Regions from separate parts of the Homo sapiens genome. Here region 1 is linked to region 2. The links come from fine-mapping of genetic effects on gene expression. Tissue or cell type: unexposed skin. Region 2 holds a variant in brackets; the other region holds the start of a gene. All regions are shown on one strand. Distances are from middle to middle.

What was found. PIP is the estimated chance that this variant, and not a neighbour inherited with it, causes the effect.
Region 1: PFKFB4 starts here. The variant in region 2 is fine-mapped to the expression of PFKFB4 in unexposed skin (GTEx, PIP above 0.99).

Annotation. Positions count from the first base shown.
Region 1 is chr3:48,553,623-48,561,706 of GRCh38, reverse strand. PFKFB4 (6-phosphofructo-2-kinase/fructose-2,6-biphosphatase 4) reads left to right here and starts at 4,904. Exons shown (of 14, transcript NM_004567.4): 1 at 4,904-5,026. The coding sequence starts at 4,930. RefSeq lists enhancers at 1,305-1,444, 1,500-2,441, 4,192-4,281, 4,412-4,501.
Region 2 is chr3:49,297,802-49,305,904 of GRCh38, reverse strand. USP4 (ubiquitin specific peptidase 4) reads left to right here. Exons shown (of 22, transcript NM_003363.4): 9 at 17-190; 10 at 3,363-3,521; 11 at 5,214-5,438; 12 at 7,270-7,353; 13 at 7,941-8,035. Among named protein-coding and RNA genes, the nearest start is that of C3orf62, 25 kb to the right of the region's middle. RefSeq lists a silencer at 2,001-2,050. The variant T/A (reference allele first, on the strand shown) is at 3,331.

The sequences.
Region 1 (8,084 bases), 740 kb after region 2:
TTGTGTATGTAGCAGACATGGAGGTCCTGCAGCAGGAGGTGCTCAATAAACACAAAGCGACTGAAGGATGGGATGTGCGAGAATCCCAGTGGTGTGCACCCAGGCCGCGACACATGGTGGGTGAGTCATACCTGGCTTCTCTGCCTTCCTCCCTAGCTCCCCGGTTAACTGACCTGGTCCCTTGGTTTGGAAGGACTAGGTTTTGCCTGATTTCACAGCCCAACTCCATTGCTGGGCCAGAGACAGAACTGACTTTCCAGGCAGTGTGGACGGGCTTGCCCGCAGAGGGGGCAGGCACTCTGGGCTGTGCAGACAACTCTAGGTGGACATGAAGGCAGACGCTGGGTGGCATGGGCAGCTCTGGCGGGAGAGGGAGACTGTACTGGCCACAGCGTGGCCGGCTGACTGGAGTGGGGGCACTGGCGCTGCCCTCACAGTTGTAAGCAGCCCTGTGGGGGCGGGCCTACAGTGGGCTGGGGAGGCGGGGCTGCAGGAGCCGCAGGAGTCGCTTCTCTCTCTTCAGAGTGCTAGGCGGGGTTACCCCACTCTGGAGCTGCAGGGGGCAGTGGCCCTGGCCAGTTTGGTTGCAGGATGGACAGAGGCTCGTTAGGAGGCAGCTCCCTGACCGACCTGGGGCCGGGGAGCAGCAGGCGGGGTAGGCACGGGACAGCGTGGGGAGGGTGGAGGGTTAGGGAAAGACCTGGATGAAGTCAGGGTGGTGCTGGAGGGGTGCGAGAGTGTTGGGGGGTCTCTCCTGGTTTAGGGGTGCTCTGAGGGCCATTCATCTGTCAGTGGCCCGAAGGAGGGGGAAAACTGTCGCCCTGCAAGGGAGAGGGGGCTGGGCCAAGGGGGAACTATAAATAGTGTCTTCCTCCAGCCCAGGGGGAGGGACCGCCAGCTGGCGCTGCCCAGGCCCTCCTGCTCTGCTCTTTGCTGGCCTCCAAGGGATCATGTTTGTCCAGGTTTCCTCTTGGGGTCACACCAGTTTGGGGAAGTCTAGAGGCTCATTTAGGATGGGTTTCACATGATGTGGCTTTAGCCCTTAAACCAGCACTTCTAGGGTGTCTGCTGTGTGCCCTGTGCCAGTCCTGAGCTTCTCTGAACACCTGCTGTGTACTCAGTTTGGTCATGAACCTCTCTGAACCCTTTCTGTGTGCCCTTGCTGGTCCTGAATCCCTAAGCACCTACTGTACGCCCTGTGGCAGGCTGGAAGGAGGAAGTGCAGATCAGGGTTCCCAGGCTGCTTGGTGACATGGTTCTATAACCTGAAGTCAGAACTTCACACTCCTTGTGAGCCCTGGGCCCAGGGAGACACAGGGGACAATCCTTTGCTGGAAATGGCCAGAGGAAGCTGGAATTCCTGGAAACTCCTGAACCTCCCAGTGGACAGCAGGGCTGGGGGTGGAGAGATATATGTGGGAAGGGAGGCAGCAGAGAGCAGCAGGCCCCACTGCAGCCTGCCTGTCTCTGCACATGCTGGGGTGCAGGACTTGTGAGTGTGTGTGCGTCTGTGTGTGCATGTGCAGCTGTGCCAGTGTCTCTGTGTGCATCAGTGTGTGGGCCTGTGTGGCATGCACTGAAACCCCTGGGTCTTTATGCTGCAAAGGGTGGTTTGTGGGCCAGATGTGGTGGCTAATGGCTATAAACCCAGGGCTTTGGGAGGTTGAGGCGGGAGGATCGCTTGAGGCCAGGAGTTCAAGGCTGCAGTGAGCCATGATTGCACTATGTGCTCCAGGCTGGGTAACAGGAGCGAGACTGTGTGTGTGTGTGTGTGTGTGTGTGTGTGTGTGTGTGTGTGTGTGTGTGTGGTGGGATGGTTTGGCAGTTCTGTCAGGACTGGCCAGTAGATACAGGGACTGGGAAGAGTTTGAGCTTTGAGAACTGGCCACCACATGGCTTCTAGGCTGGGACACTGGGAGGAAGTCCAGTGGTCAGTGCAGAGGGCACCCTGGGAGCCAACCAGGGTCAGGCCAGCCAGGTTCATGGTGGGCAGAGGCTGAGCAGAACATGTTCACACGTGTGTACAGACATCCCAGCATACTTCCCACGCCTGGGACAGAACAGCTGGCTCACTTTCGGATATACTGAGGAGGAAAAAGCCATGAGGGCCAGAGATTCTACCGGGCATCCGCTGATGCTGAGAGAGCAGACGCTGGGACAGCATCTCCATGGAGAGGACACAGGGGAGTGGGAGCACACATGTGAAGGTGGACTGTGCGATTCCACTGTAGTGTGGCAGGCAAGGTCTGGAAGGCTGGGAGTTGAGCTGAGTCCATGCTGCACTGTGGACTCGCTTTGTGATCTTGGACCCTTCTCCCTCTTCCTGACCCTCAGTTTCCCACCTGACAAACAGGGCCATGGGAGGGGAGATGGAGAATATCCTCAGAGCAGATGTGGACGGTGGCCTTGGGGAGGAACCCCAGGCATCTCCTGATGTTGACCTGTGGCCTTCCAGCTGGACATAGGGCCTTGAAGGAGGGTGCCTGGGTCAGCCACGGGTAGACTTTCTGGGGAAGAGAGGAAGGTGCAGAGCTGTTGCATTTCCTGGGAACCAGGCTCATCCTGTCTGGGTGTGAGGATGCCTTCCCAGAGATAGCCCTGGCCCCCTGCCCAGGCCAGCTGTCCTCTACCCCCAGCCCTTGATTAGCATCCCAGGAGGTCTGGGAAGAGAATGGACAGGCCAGAGGAGGTGCTGGGTGTCTGTAGATATCAGAGGAGATAGCTTTTGCAATGAGTGCTGCGGGTTAGACAGGGTGTGGGCATGTGGTAATGAGGTCTCAGAGGCCACGGTGGCCCCAAGATGGCCTTGGCAGTGGCCAGAAGACAAGAGGGCTGGCTGTGTCACGAACAGAATGAGTGGCTTTGGAGAAGTAGGGAGCAGGTCACGAGGGGCACCCAGCTCATCAGGAGCCGCCCATGGATGTGCTCAGATCTGCTGGGACTGGGGTGGAGGAATAAGCGGGTAGATACTGCAAAAGGAGGATGAGGAAGGAGGAAGTTGTTGACTCTGCCTGGGGCAGGGTGTTCCCAGGGCAAGCAGCTAGAGCTGGTTTGGGGGAGGGTCCAGATGGGCTTCCAGCATGTGGACCTTTGGAATCTTCAGTTCCTATGAAGTGGGCAAGACATCTGTGTCAGTCATCTTAAGGGTCCTTGCCAAGCTTTAAAGAGCTGGGTGGACTTGGACTGATCCAAGGCAGGGCTGTGGCAGGGAGGGCATGGGAGGGGGTGCTACACCTATAGCCCACGAGGCCAGTCTTGTTGCCAGTCCCATGCCCTCAACACCTGGCTCCTGGCTGGGTACACACTGGGCAGAGAGAACCTGAGGATGCAGGGCACCTGCCAGGGGTGTTGTGGATGACATCGCTAGAGGGCAGTGTGGCTCAGGTTGAAGCCGTGTTGGTGGGGGCTGGGGCAGAGAGTGTACAAAGCTTGGAGAGGCGGGGCTGGGGATCCCGAGGAGGCGGGAAACTGCAGGAGTCCGGTGGGGGCCAAACAAGAAAGTGAGCCAGGGGTTTAGGAACTTCTGGATCTCTCCCTTGTTCCTTGTCCCCAGTGCATTTTCAAAGACAAGAGGGAGATACAAATATAGTAAAAGGCAACCATAACGTATTTTAAAATGAATTTCTTAGAGATTGACATACTTAATTTATACTGTAATACTGTAAGATAGACAATGTGCACATCCCATTTTCCTGAAGAGAAAATGTTATTAACATATTATTTTCAAAAAATATGTAAAACTTTAGTTAAAAAAACCAAAATACTAAAAATCAAAAAAAAATTGTAAAAAATGAAATTCTGGAAAGACGATTAAGATACTCCCAGGGCTTAGTGAGTACCCAAAGTACTTGGTTACTAAGTGCCACGCACGGCCGGGCGCGGTGGCTCACGCCTGTAATCCCAGCACTTTGGAAGGCTGAGGAGGGCGTATCACCTGAGGTCAGGAGTTCGAGACCAGCCCGGCCAACGTGGTGAAATCCCGCCTCTACTAAAAATACAAAAATTAGCAGGGCGTGGTGGTGGGCGCCTGTAATCCCAGCTACTTGGGAACCCGAGGCAGGAGCATCCCTTGAACCCGGGAGGCGGAGGTTGCAGTGAGCCAAGATAGCGCCATTGCACTCCAGCCTGGGCAACAGGAGCGAAACTCCGTCTCAAAAAAAAAAAGTCCCACGCATTTGCTCCCAGCAGCCAAAGCAAAGAAAGAGGAACAATATTGAAATGTGTTTTGAGTCTCTATCCATGAGGTAAAAGAGCTTTTCCAGCGTGGTTGAGCATGCTCCTATGGACGGCGGAAGAGTCCCGGGGCTCGGAGCAGTCAAGGGGGACCCCGAGGAGGGGCAGGAGGGCGCAGCGGAGTTGACGGCTGGGACTGCAGGCCTACTGGCCCCTGTCGGCTCTGACCAACCTGGCCGTGCGGGTCACGTAGGCCTCGTCCCACTGCATGAAAACCCCTCCCTCCTGGGGGCCCTGGGCTCCCTAGCAAGGAGGTAGCAGAATTCACGCGTGCCGCTGCTCAGGGATGCAGCGCCAGGGCGGAGCCCGTAGGTGGGGCCTATGCAAATCAGCGCGGGCAGGTTGGGAGAGCTGAGTTTGCGCATCCGGGGCGGGCCTGCACAATCCGGGCCTTGAACTGGGGCGGGACCAGTACAATCCGGAGTTGAGCATGCGCATTCTCGATCCTGGCCTGAAGAACTGGGCCCACTTGTTCCAAAACGGGCGGGTAGGTGAGTTGGGCATGCGTGGTCGGAGGCCGGGCCCCTTTCAGCTGGGGCGGAGCCTACTCACTCTGGGGCGGGACCTGCGGGAAGATAGACATGGGCTGTCGCGGCTTGAGGAGGGGCGGGGCCCAAGGGGCGGGACCTCGGGTGGCCCGAGGTGGCCCGGCTGCTGGGTTGGAAGCGGCGCAGTCCGACTCATCCCGGCCCCGGGATGGCGTCCCCACGGGAATTGACACAGAACCCCCTGAAGAAGATCTGGATGCCATACAGCAATGGGCGGCCCGCTCTGCACGCTTGCCAGCGCGGTGGTGAGGCGGGGTCCTCTGGGAGGAGGTGGGAGGTGCACCGGGATGGGTGGGTAGGGCGGCCTGGGCGGGGGTCTCGCATGGAGAAGGGGCGGGAGACAGATGGGGAACCGGGGACAGGTGAGGTTGCCGTGACTGGGGAGGCTGCTGGGGACAGGTGAGGCGGTCGTGACAGTGGTGGGCCAGAGACAGGTGTGGCAGAGCAGGGGGCGGGGACAGGTGTGTGGGGGCATATCGGCTTGGCGGTGGCTAGGTCTGGCCACCATCACCTCGGGGAGGGCTCTGGCCCCCTCGCTTCCCTCTCCAATCCCCATCGCCCCCAGTCTGGGGAGGACCCTGTGGGCACCCCAGGCCCTTCCCTCTCTCCTGGCCAAGGAGTGTGGGCCGGGTTGTTGGACTGGAACTGAGCTGTGTGGCCCTAGGTGAATTACTTGGCCTCTCTGAGCCCAGAACTTTCAAAGGTGGGCTAGTTTTCCAACAGGAGGAAGGGTGCCTCTTGGCCTTAAAGCTGAGCTTGGGCAGGAACTTCAGCAGAGATGTGCTCAGGATAGAGACAGAAAAGTATGCCGTGTGGGCCTGTGTCTGTGTCCCGGGACATGTAAGTATCCACCTGGGGTCATGGGTGTACAGTAAAACTGGAGAGTGAAACAGCTAGGAGAATGCTGAAATTCATGGAATTGTTAAGGGGCTCACCTCTCCTAGGGTCCCAGGTGTTTAAACCGCTTCCTTGAGTTTCTGCCTGTCCTTAAATGAGCTGGCAGTTTTTTTTTTTTTTAAGAGATGAGTCTCGCTCAGTGGCCCAAGCTGGAGCAAGTGCAGTGGCGCGATCATAGTTCACTGCAGCCACGACCTTCTGGGCTCAAGCAATCCTCCCACCTCAACCTCCCGATTAGCTGGGATTATAGGTGCGCCACCACACCCAGCTTTTTTTTTTCTTTTTTCTTTTTTTTTGTAGAGACAGGGTCTTGCTATGTTGTCTGGGCTGGTCTCCAACTCATGGCTTCAAGTGGATCCTCTGGCCTCGGCCTTCCGAAGTGTTGAGATTACAGGCGTGGGTCCTGGCCTGCAACTTTTTTATTACCAGGAAAAGAAAGATTTGTTTTAGGAGTAACTGAAACATTGTAATGAATTTGCAGCTTGTCCAGCACCTCAGAGAACATCTAGTTTAACAGACAGTGAAATGGAGATCAGGAGATTGAGTGACATGCCTGGGTCTCCCTGTGATCCTGCCTCTGCTTATGTATGATAAGCAAGGGGAGAGTTCTTTGTGCTCATCCTGCTGCAGCAGCCTGGAGCCATGGCTTTGATCATGATATGAGTCCTGGGGGAAGGGTGTGTGTATTTCTGGCCACACTGTGAGTCCTGGCAGGGGAAGGCCATGTTTCTGACCAGACCAAGTCGTGGTAACTCATGGCTTTGATTGTGATGTAGGTCCTGGTGGGGCTGTGCTGTCTATAATGCACACTCAGTCCTGAGGGCTATGGCCACCCCTCCTTTGAGACTCTTCTGGAGGCGGGGAGGCTGAGCCAGTCTGTGTTATTAGGGCTGTGTGGTCCTGACTTAGGGGGGTGGCTGCTATTACTACATAGGGGAAAGGAGTGAGGACCTGGACTTTTTTTTTTTTTTTTTTTTTGAGACGGAGTTTCACTCTTGTTGCCCAGGTTGTAGTGCAGTGGTCCTATCTCAGCTCACTGCAACCTCTACCTCCTGGGTTCAAGCAATTCTCCTGCCTCAGCCTTCCAAGTTGCTGGGATTACAGGTATGCGCCACCATGGCCGGCTAATTTTGTATTTTTAGTAGGATGGAGTTTCACCATGTTGGCCAGGCTCGTCTTGAATTCGTTATCTCTAATGATCTGCCCCCCTTGGCCTCCCAAAGTGTTGGGATTACAGGCATGAGCTGCCATGCCTAGCCAAGTCTGTGAGCCTTTAAGGAGTAGGTCCTCAATAAGCGGAGGCAGGGTATTCTGTCATCACTACCATTCTTTCTTTGCTTCTCACTACGTCTGAGTCAGGGATTGATGCATCAGCTCCAAGCCAACCCCCGTTACAGGTGAGAGGAAGCTGAGGCCCAATGGGAAGGTCTCATAGCTCCTGAGGCAGGGCTTGTGTTTCTCCAGGCTCTAAGTGTGGAACTGAAATGTGGCTCTGGCCTGAGCTGAGGGGCTCGTGCCATCACGGTGTCTCAGGGTGTTGGGGTAGGCTGGGTTCTAGGTCCGCACTTTTTCCTGGAGGAGGAGGTAGCACCTGAGAGGCCAAAGATGAGACCTGCAGGTTGTTTGGGGATTTGGGCCTCAGGGTTCACAGCAGGGAGTGGGTAAGCAGTGAATGAACATGGAACCCGCCCATGCAGCACCTCCAGCTCCCAGTGCCTGCATTTGGGCAACACTTTACCCTTTGCATAGTAGACTTGTAGGTTGAGTGACTGCAAGGACAGTCTGGACCCGGAGGGTGTGGGTGGGGATGGAAGCGGATTTGGTCCCAGGGCTTTGTGGGGAGGAAGAAGCAGGACCCACTGCTGGTCTGTGCTTTGTACTGGGTTTTCTCTGGAGTCTAGTCCCCAGCTCCTCAGGGCACTAGGGGCTGGTGGACTGAGGGATGTACTGCACCTCCTCCACTCCCACAGGCACGCCCCCGCTTGATAAAATTTAAAGCCACACCTGAGGGCTTGGGAGGCTTTTACCTTTCCCATCATTGGCCTCCGAGCTCAGACCTGGAGGAACTCTGAGGGCAGGTGGGGCAAGAGCTGACTCAAGAAGGACTGCAGAAAGGACGGTGTTTGATGGCTTTTCTCAGCTGAAAGGTGGCAAGACTCTTCCTGGGTAAGGACATGACTGGTGTGTGCACAGGGCAACAGGAGAGATGACTTTCAGTCCCCTCTGAAAAGGGCCTCCATGGCACGTTACTTTATTTTAAAGAGCTCTTCCTTCCCTAGCCTGGCCTAAGGAGGTGAGAGCAGTTGCAGTTCAGGAGTCAATTCTGGCACCCCCTCCAGGGACTTGTGGCTGCTCCTTGGGTAGAAGTAATGGAACATAGACACTGCCCATTGCCAGGCACGTCTC
Region 2 (8,103 bases):
TCATGTTCTGTTTCAGTGTTTGAGCAACACTGCACCACTGACTGACTACTTTCTCAAAGATGAGTATGAAGCCGAAATCAACAGAGACAACCCTCTGGGGATGAAAGGGGAAATTGCAGAAGCCTATGCTGAACTCATTAAGCAGATGTGGTCTGGAAGGGACGCCCATGTGGCACCTCGCATGTTCAAAGTAGGTAGACATATATATATATGGGTTGGGTATCCCTGTATATAGATGCCTGGGACCAGAAATGTTTCGGGACTTCAGGTTTTTTAGGATTTTTTTTTATGGTATTTACATTATGCTTACTAGTTCAGCATCCCCATTCCAAAATCTAAAATGTTTCAGTGAGCATTTCCTTTGAATATCATGTCAGTGTTAGGTTATGGATCTTTAAGCATTTGGATTTCAGATTTTTGGATAAGGGATACTCTCCCGTACTTCCTTTTTCCCACTTTGGGGAGAGTGGTTTAGTGTTGTTATGAGGCATTCCTTTCGTTGCATTTTGGGATTAAGATGGGATCTGGGCCAGGCGCTGTGGCTCACGCCTGTAATCCCAGCACTTTGGGAGGCTGAGGCGGGCGGATCACAAGGTCAGGAGATTGAGACCATCCTGGCTAACATGGTGAAACCCCGTCTCTACTAAAAATACATAAAAAAAAAATTAGCTAGGTGTGATGGCAGGCGCCTGTAGTCCCAGCTACTCGGGAGGCTGGGGAAGGAGAATGGCGTGAACCCGGGAGGCAGAGCTTGCAGTGAGCCGAGATTGCGCCTCTGCACTCCAGCCTGGGTGACAGAACGAGACTCTGTCTCAAAGAAAAAACAACAACAACAACAAAAAAGTCCAGGCGTGGTGGCTCATTCCTGTAATCCCAGCACTTTGGGAGGCTGAGGCGGGCAGATCACGAGGTCAGGAGTTCGAGATCAGCCTGACCAACATAGTGAAACCCCGTCTCTACCAAAAATACAAAAATTAGCCAGGCGTGGTGGTGCGCACCTGTAATTCCAGCTACTCAGGATGCTGAGGCAGGAGAATTGCTTGAACCTGGGAGGTGGAGGGTGCAGTGAGCCGAGATCACGCCACTGCACTCCAGCCTGAGCGACAGAGTGAGACTCTGTCTCAACAACAACAACAACAACAACAACAAAATTAGCTGGACATGGTGATGTACCTGTAGTCCCGGCTACCAGGGAGGCTGAGGTGGGAGAATTACTTAAGCCTGGGAGGTCAAGGCTGCAGTGAGCTGTGATTGTGCCACTGTACCCAGCCTTGGCGACAGAGACCCTGTCTCTAAAAAAAATGAAAATTCAGTTTAATTTCTAGTATCATCTGAAGGCTGTTTCCAGGTTCTCTGAGCCTGGATTCTACAGGCTTCGTGGTTTGAGTTGGGACCCCCTAAGTCAGGAATTGGGCTCACATTCTTGGAAGGTGATGTGAGGGGCAGTTATCACTGGGGTCCCTCAGCCAGGAAGGTTTAAGGAGAAGACATGGATACACTCGGAGCAACTTGGGCTTTCCATTGCCCCAACTGCTTTTTCCTGCTGAGGTGGAGGTGCTTTGCTCCCTCCCGCTCAGCAGATTTAAGCTGAAATCTGAAAGATCCTATTTAGCCTGTACCACTGGGATTCATGGAGCTTCATGAAGCATATGATAAGAAAAGACATGCATATTTATGATTCAGAGAGGAAAAAAAATAGCACCTTAGCTCAGTGAGAAAACTAAAATCTCAGGTGGTTTGTTGAAATTGAAAACTAATTATCTTTCATCCCCTTGGTCACATGAATCCCTGGGAAATATATAAATGACTGTTCACATACTAAGTCACAAAGAAACTAGAATTGGGTGGCAACGGCTGGGTGCGGTGCCTCACACCTGTAATCCCAGCCCATGGGGAGGCCAAGGTGGGTGGATCACTTGAGGTCAGGAGTTCAAGACCAGCCTGGCCAATATTGTGAAACCCCATCTCTACTAAAAATACAAAAATTAGCCAGGCGTGGTGGCATATGCCTGTAATCCCAGCAACTCGGGAGGCCAAGGCATGAGAATTGCTTGAACCTGGGAGGCGGAGGTTGCAGTGAGCTGAGATTGCGCCACTGCACTCCAGCCTGGCAACAGAGTGAGACCCTGTCCCAGAAAAAAAAATAAAAAAGAATTGGGTGGCAACACACTGTGCTGAAGCTAATGTAAATAAACAACTGGAAGGTAGTGTTTAGGGGTATTAGGGAAGTGTGGAGCTTCCTCAGTGATGGATGTGTTATATATCTGCACTGTGTTTTGGTAGCTACCAGCTCAAGCACCTCTGAGCACTTGAGATGTGGTTCATTTGACCGAGGAACTGAATTTTTAATGGTTTTTAATTGTAATTAATGTAAATTTCAATTGCCATATGTGGCTAGTGGCTATGGTATTAGAGAACAGGTGTAGAACAGTGGTTCTCCTTTTTTTTTTTTTTTTTTTTTTTTTTGAGACAGCCTTGCTATGTCGCCCAGGCTGGAGCGTACTGGCACAATTTCGGCTCACTGCAGCCTCCGCCTCCTGGGTTCAAGTGATTCTCCTGCCTCAGCCTCCTGCGTAGCTGGGATTACAGGTGTGCACCACCATGCCCAGCTAATTTTTGTATTTTTAGTAGAGACGGGGTTTCACCATGTTGGCCAGGCTGGTCTTGAACTCCCAACCTCAGGTGATCTGCCTGCCTCAGCCTTCCAAAATTCTGGGATCATAGGCATGAGCCACCGTGCCTGGCTGGTTCTCCATAGGATGCATCACAATCTCTGGGAGTGCTTAATACAACACAGACTGCTAGACCCATCCCCAGAGTTTCTGATTGAATAGGTTTGGTGTGGGGCCTGAGAATGTGCTTTTCTACTAAGCTCCCAGGTGATACTAATGCTGCGACTGGGGACCATACTCTCAGAATAACTGGTGGAGAGTATTACTGGACAGACAGTATTTAGGGACCTGAGGGCTGTTATGTACAGGAGGATTCCTCCAGCTGATGAAAGTATTGTTTGTAATGTCCTTATGGAGTTTAAGACTCTGAACCAAAGAAGGACATGTTGGAGAGGGATTCATGTCAGTACTTGGGTGTGGTTACTCAGGGTACTCCACCCTTCCTCCTTAGGACTTAGGGCAGTGGCCCAGGTTCCAGGTTCATCCTCCTGGCTCTCTGATCTAGGCCTTCTTTCTGGTGGGAACCACTGGCCTCCTGTAGGCTCTTCAGGAGTTAATTGGACTACTCAACCAAGTGTTCTCTCTCACTGCCCCAGCTAACTCCTCAGAGCTATTTTTGATGGCAATTCTTTTTTGATTTAACTAGTTCTTTACGTAT[T/A]ATGCCTTCTGATACAGTTGCTTTTGTTGTAGACTCAAGTAGGACGTTTTGCTCCTCAATTTTCTGGCTACCAGCAACAAGATTCTCAGGAGCTGCTGGCCTTTCTTCTAGATGGATTGCATGAAGATCTGAACCGGGTAAAGAAAAAGCCCTACTTGGAGCTGAAGGATGCCAATGGGCGGCCAGATGCGGTATGCCATTAATGATGTCTGAATGATAATATGCCAAAGAAGCTGCCTCCTATTGAGAGTGCAGGGATATTCTTCTGGTCTTTGAGTGTTGTTGCCAGGGCCCTGGTTGCTTCTCACTGTAGCTAGTTATAGGGATATGGTCTCTGGTCAGAAAGGGGCTAACTGTAGTTACTGCTTTTTTTTTTTTTTTTTTTAAATAGAGACAGAAACTTGCTGTGTTGTCTAGGCTGGTCTCCAGCTCCTGAGCTCAAGCAGTCTTCTCACCTCAGCCTCCCAAAGTGCTGGGATTACAACAGGCGTGAGGCACTGTACCCTAGTTACTCCTAAGGCTTCCTCTTGGGCTTTTTCAAATTAGAGTGAGCTTGTTTGATATTTCACTGGTGAACTAGGGACTAAGAACACTCTGAAAACTGTAAAGTACCTATAGTGAGGACCCCTAAGATTGTTATTGCTCACAATAAAATCCATCCATGATTACTTAATTTGTTATTAGTATCATTAGGACATTTATACCTTTTGCCTTGATTATCTGATCAGTGCAAGAGGATTTTAGTATTTCAGCTACCCTATCACATTGGGATAATCAATATGAATGCTTTAAAGTAAAATTTAGATCTTCTTAGAAAAACTATGAGTTAGCTGAGCTGTAGTATAGATAAAAACTTTATTTTTAAAATTTATTTATTTATTTTTTTTGAGATGGAGTCTCACTCTGTTGCCCAGGCTGGAGTGCAATGACGTGATCTTGGCTCACTGCAACCTCCACCTCCCGGGTTCAAGCGATTCTCCTGTCTCAGCCTCTCAAGTAGCTGGCACTACAGCCACGTGCCACCATGCCCAGCAAATTTTTGTATTTTTAGTAGAGAGGGGGTTTCACCATGTTGGCCAGGCTGATATTGAACTCCTGACCTCTGGTGATCCGCCTGCTTCGGCCTCCCAAAGTGCTGGGATTTCAGGCGTCAGCCACCGTGCCCCGCCAAAAACCTTACTTTAGATCACTGGAAACATATAGGGGGGCTTTCCTTGCCCTGGCCATGTCTCTGTACCGATAGTGTTCTCCGGGCTTCTGTTTCTTATCAGGACACACAGACCCCTAGTTTCCAATAGGTCCTATGTTGCCAACCTTATTAAGTGTGAGGATTAGGGCGAGGCGCAGTGGCTTTCCCCTGCGGTTCCAGCACTTTGGAGGCTGAGGTGGGAGCATCACTTGAGGCCAGGAGCTCTAGAACTGTCTGGTCAACATAGTAAGACCCCCATCCCTACCAAACCTAAAAAAATTAGCCAGGCATGGTGATGCATGCCTATAGTCCTAGCTACTTGGGAGTCTGAGGCAGGAAGATCGCTTTGAGTCCGGGAGGTTGAGGCTGTAGTGAACCATGATCACGCCAGCCTGAGCGACAGAGCAAGACCATGTCTCAATCAATCAATATAATATATATTTGAAATATGTATATATATAAACATATATGTGAAATATATATATGTGTGTTGGGGTGGGGATTGGGCGTAGAGCTGGCATGTGGTATGAGTATGATACACTAAGAGTAGTCCTGGCCTTGTTTGTCCTGGATCAAGCTCTTGGCTGTACAGATTGCCACCTGATTCATCTCCAGGTTTGCTGTGAGTCATTCTGGATGCAGGGGCAAGGGGCTGAGAGGTGTTGAGAATGTCCTGTTTATCCCTTTGACGCAGGTGGTGGCAAAGGAAGCCTGGGAGAATCACAGGTTGAGGAATGATTCTGTGATTGTGGATACTTTCCATGGCCTCTTCAAATCTACTTTGGTTTGCCCAGAATGTGCTAAGGTTTCTGTGACCTTTGACCCATTTTGCTATCTAACGCTGCCACTGCCCTTGAAGAAAGATCGAGTTATGGAGGTTTTCCTGGTTCCTGCTGACCCTCACTGCAGACCTACTCAGGTGACAGAATCCACACCCTTATGGCACCCCTCACTGCAAGTGGTCTCCAGATCCCAGTGGGACTGCTCCTATCTGCTGCATTGGCTGCCTCTGAGTCCCCTTGGTACTTGCCTGGGTATGGGCCCTTGGCCTCCATCAGACCTTTGTCTAATCCCATATCATTTAAGGCCTATTGTGAAGGTCTTTGCAGCTTCTTTGCTTCTCTGTCACTTTTTTTTTTTTTGAGACAGAGTCGCTCTGTTGCCCATGCTGGAGTGAAGTGGCATGATCTCAGCTCACTGTAACGTCTTCCTCCCAGGTTCAAGCGATTCTCCTACCTCAGCCACTCAGTAGCCGGGATTACAGGCGTGTACCACCACGCTCAGCTAATTTTTGTATTTTTAGTAGAGACATAGTAGAGACAGGATGTTACCTTGTTGGCCAGAACTCCTGACCTCAAGTAATCTGCCCATCTTGGCCTCCCAAAGTGTTGGGATTACAGGCGTGAGCCACCGCACCCGGCCTCTGTCACTTTTTTGGCCACACTTCATTCACGCGACTAAAGTAACCTGATCTACTAAGTGGTTCTTGAATCTGAATGTTGGGGAACCAGAAGCACGGTTCTTTTCGTACTCAGATATACCCTCACATAACCTAGGACAGCCTGTACAGAAGATTAGGCCAGATGAGAGGTGTGAGCAGCAGGTCTTAGTGTCTTACCCTGCTGATGGCTCACTGAGTAATTGTATTGCTTAGCCTTCTGGTTTTGGTTTCTTTGTCTCTAAAGAAAGTTGAGGGCCGGGCGCGGTGGCTCACGCCTGTAATCCCAGCACTTTGGGAGGCCGAGGCGGGCAGATCACGAGGTCAGGAGATCCAGACCATCCTGGCTAACACGGTGAAACCCCGTCTCTACTAAAAATACAAAAAATTAGCCAGGCATGGTGGCGGGCGCCTGTAGTCCCAGCTACTCGGGCAGCTGAGGCAGGAGAATGGCGTGAACCCGGGAGGCGGAGCTTGCAGCGAGCCAAGATTGCGCCACTGCACTCCAGCCTGGGCGACAGAGCGAGACTCCGTCTCAAAAAAAAAAAAAAGTTGAGGCAGGCTGGGCACGGTGGCTTACCCCTGTAATCCCAGCACTTCAGGAGGCCGAGGCGGGCAGATCACGAGGTCAGGAGTTCGAGACCACCCTGACCAACATGGTGAAACCCTGTCTGTACTAAAAATACAAAAATTATCCAGGCGTGGTGGTGCGCGCCTGTAATCCCAGCTACTCAGGAGGCTGAGGCAGGAGAATCGCTTGAACCCGGGAGGTGGAGGTTGCAGTGAGCCAAGATCGCGTCACTGCGCTCCAGCTTGTGTGACAGAGCAAGACTGTGTCTCAGAAAAAAAAGAAAAAAGAAAAAAAAGAAAGTTGAGGCCGGGCTTGGTGGCCAACACCTGTAATCCCAGCACTTTGGGATGCTGAGGCGGGAGGATTGCTCGAGGCCAGGAGTTTGAGACCCTGTCTCTACAAAAAATAAAAATAAAATAAAAAGGTAGGACCAGATGGCAATTTGAATTTGTATAATTTCAGCAGTTCTTCAGAAAGTACTCTAAAGAATTAAGAATAAAATGAAGCAATGTTTGGAAGAGAAAGAGATGGCCTAGCCCCCATGCTGCTGCCTGTGTATTGAGGAGGATGCTGACATAGAGGTCCTGCTTATTTGCTCTGCTTCTGACTCATCTGTACCCTGACCTCACCATACATTGTTTCTAGAAGGGCTCCTCTGCCCCTAGTGATGCCTGCTTCTCCTAATGCATTTCGCACCCTTTGTGGGGCACCCCTGTGACCTTGACCATCTCTGTCTTGCAGTACCGTGTGACTGTGCCGCTGATGGGGGCTGTGTCCGACCTGTGCGAGGCTCTCTCCAGGCTGTCTGGCATTGCTGCAGAAAATGTAAGGCGGGGTGATCAGTGGCACTCGGTCTATTTGGGATACTTCATAGCATTTGGAGTTTACTTTCAACCTTGAAGCCACTTTTTGGGGTTGTTGTTATTGCCAGCACAAATGTGATTATTTGTGTGTGTCTGGATGCCTCACTCACTATGCACATTGTGACTGAGACTGTCCCTTCCAGCTCCAGGAAACACTATCTTTCCTTCATTGGGTTCACACTAGCCGTGGTCAAAGGACCAGGAGTAGGGCTCTGCTGTCAGATCTGTGCACTGAGGGTGGCATAGAGACTGCAGACTATGGAATACTCCAGAGGCTCTGGACAACTGCTGGTTTCTGGTTAGCACCACACTCCTCGCCCTTCCTGCCAGTCGAGGGCAGATGCTACCAGCATGTTCAATTCTGATGGCAGCCATGCTGCTCCCCCTTGGGCCTTGGCCCTCAGCTCTCTGGGGCTGTTTGTGTGGTGGTTTCTCTAGAGGCAACATTTGAGTATGAGTATTTTTTTTTTCATTTGTTTCTGGGTTTTAAGCAGTTAGTAGGGGCACTCTTAGCCATTCTGTGGTCTTTCTGTTACTGTTCATTCTTAGATGGTGGTCGCAGATGTGTATAATCACCGATTCCACAAAATTTTCCAAATGGATGAAGGTTTAAACCACATCATGCCTCGGGATGACATTTTCGTGTGAGTACTCAGCAGTTTCTGCTGCAGGTCAGGTCAGAGGACACATTCTAGAGACTTTGCTGCATTCA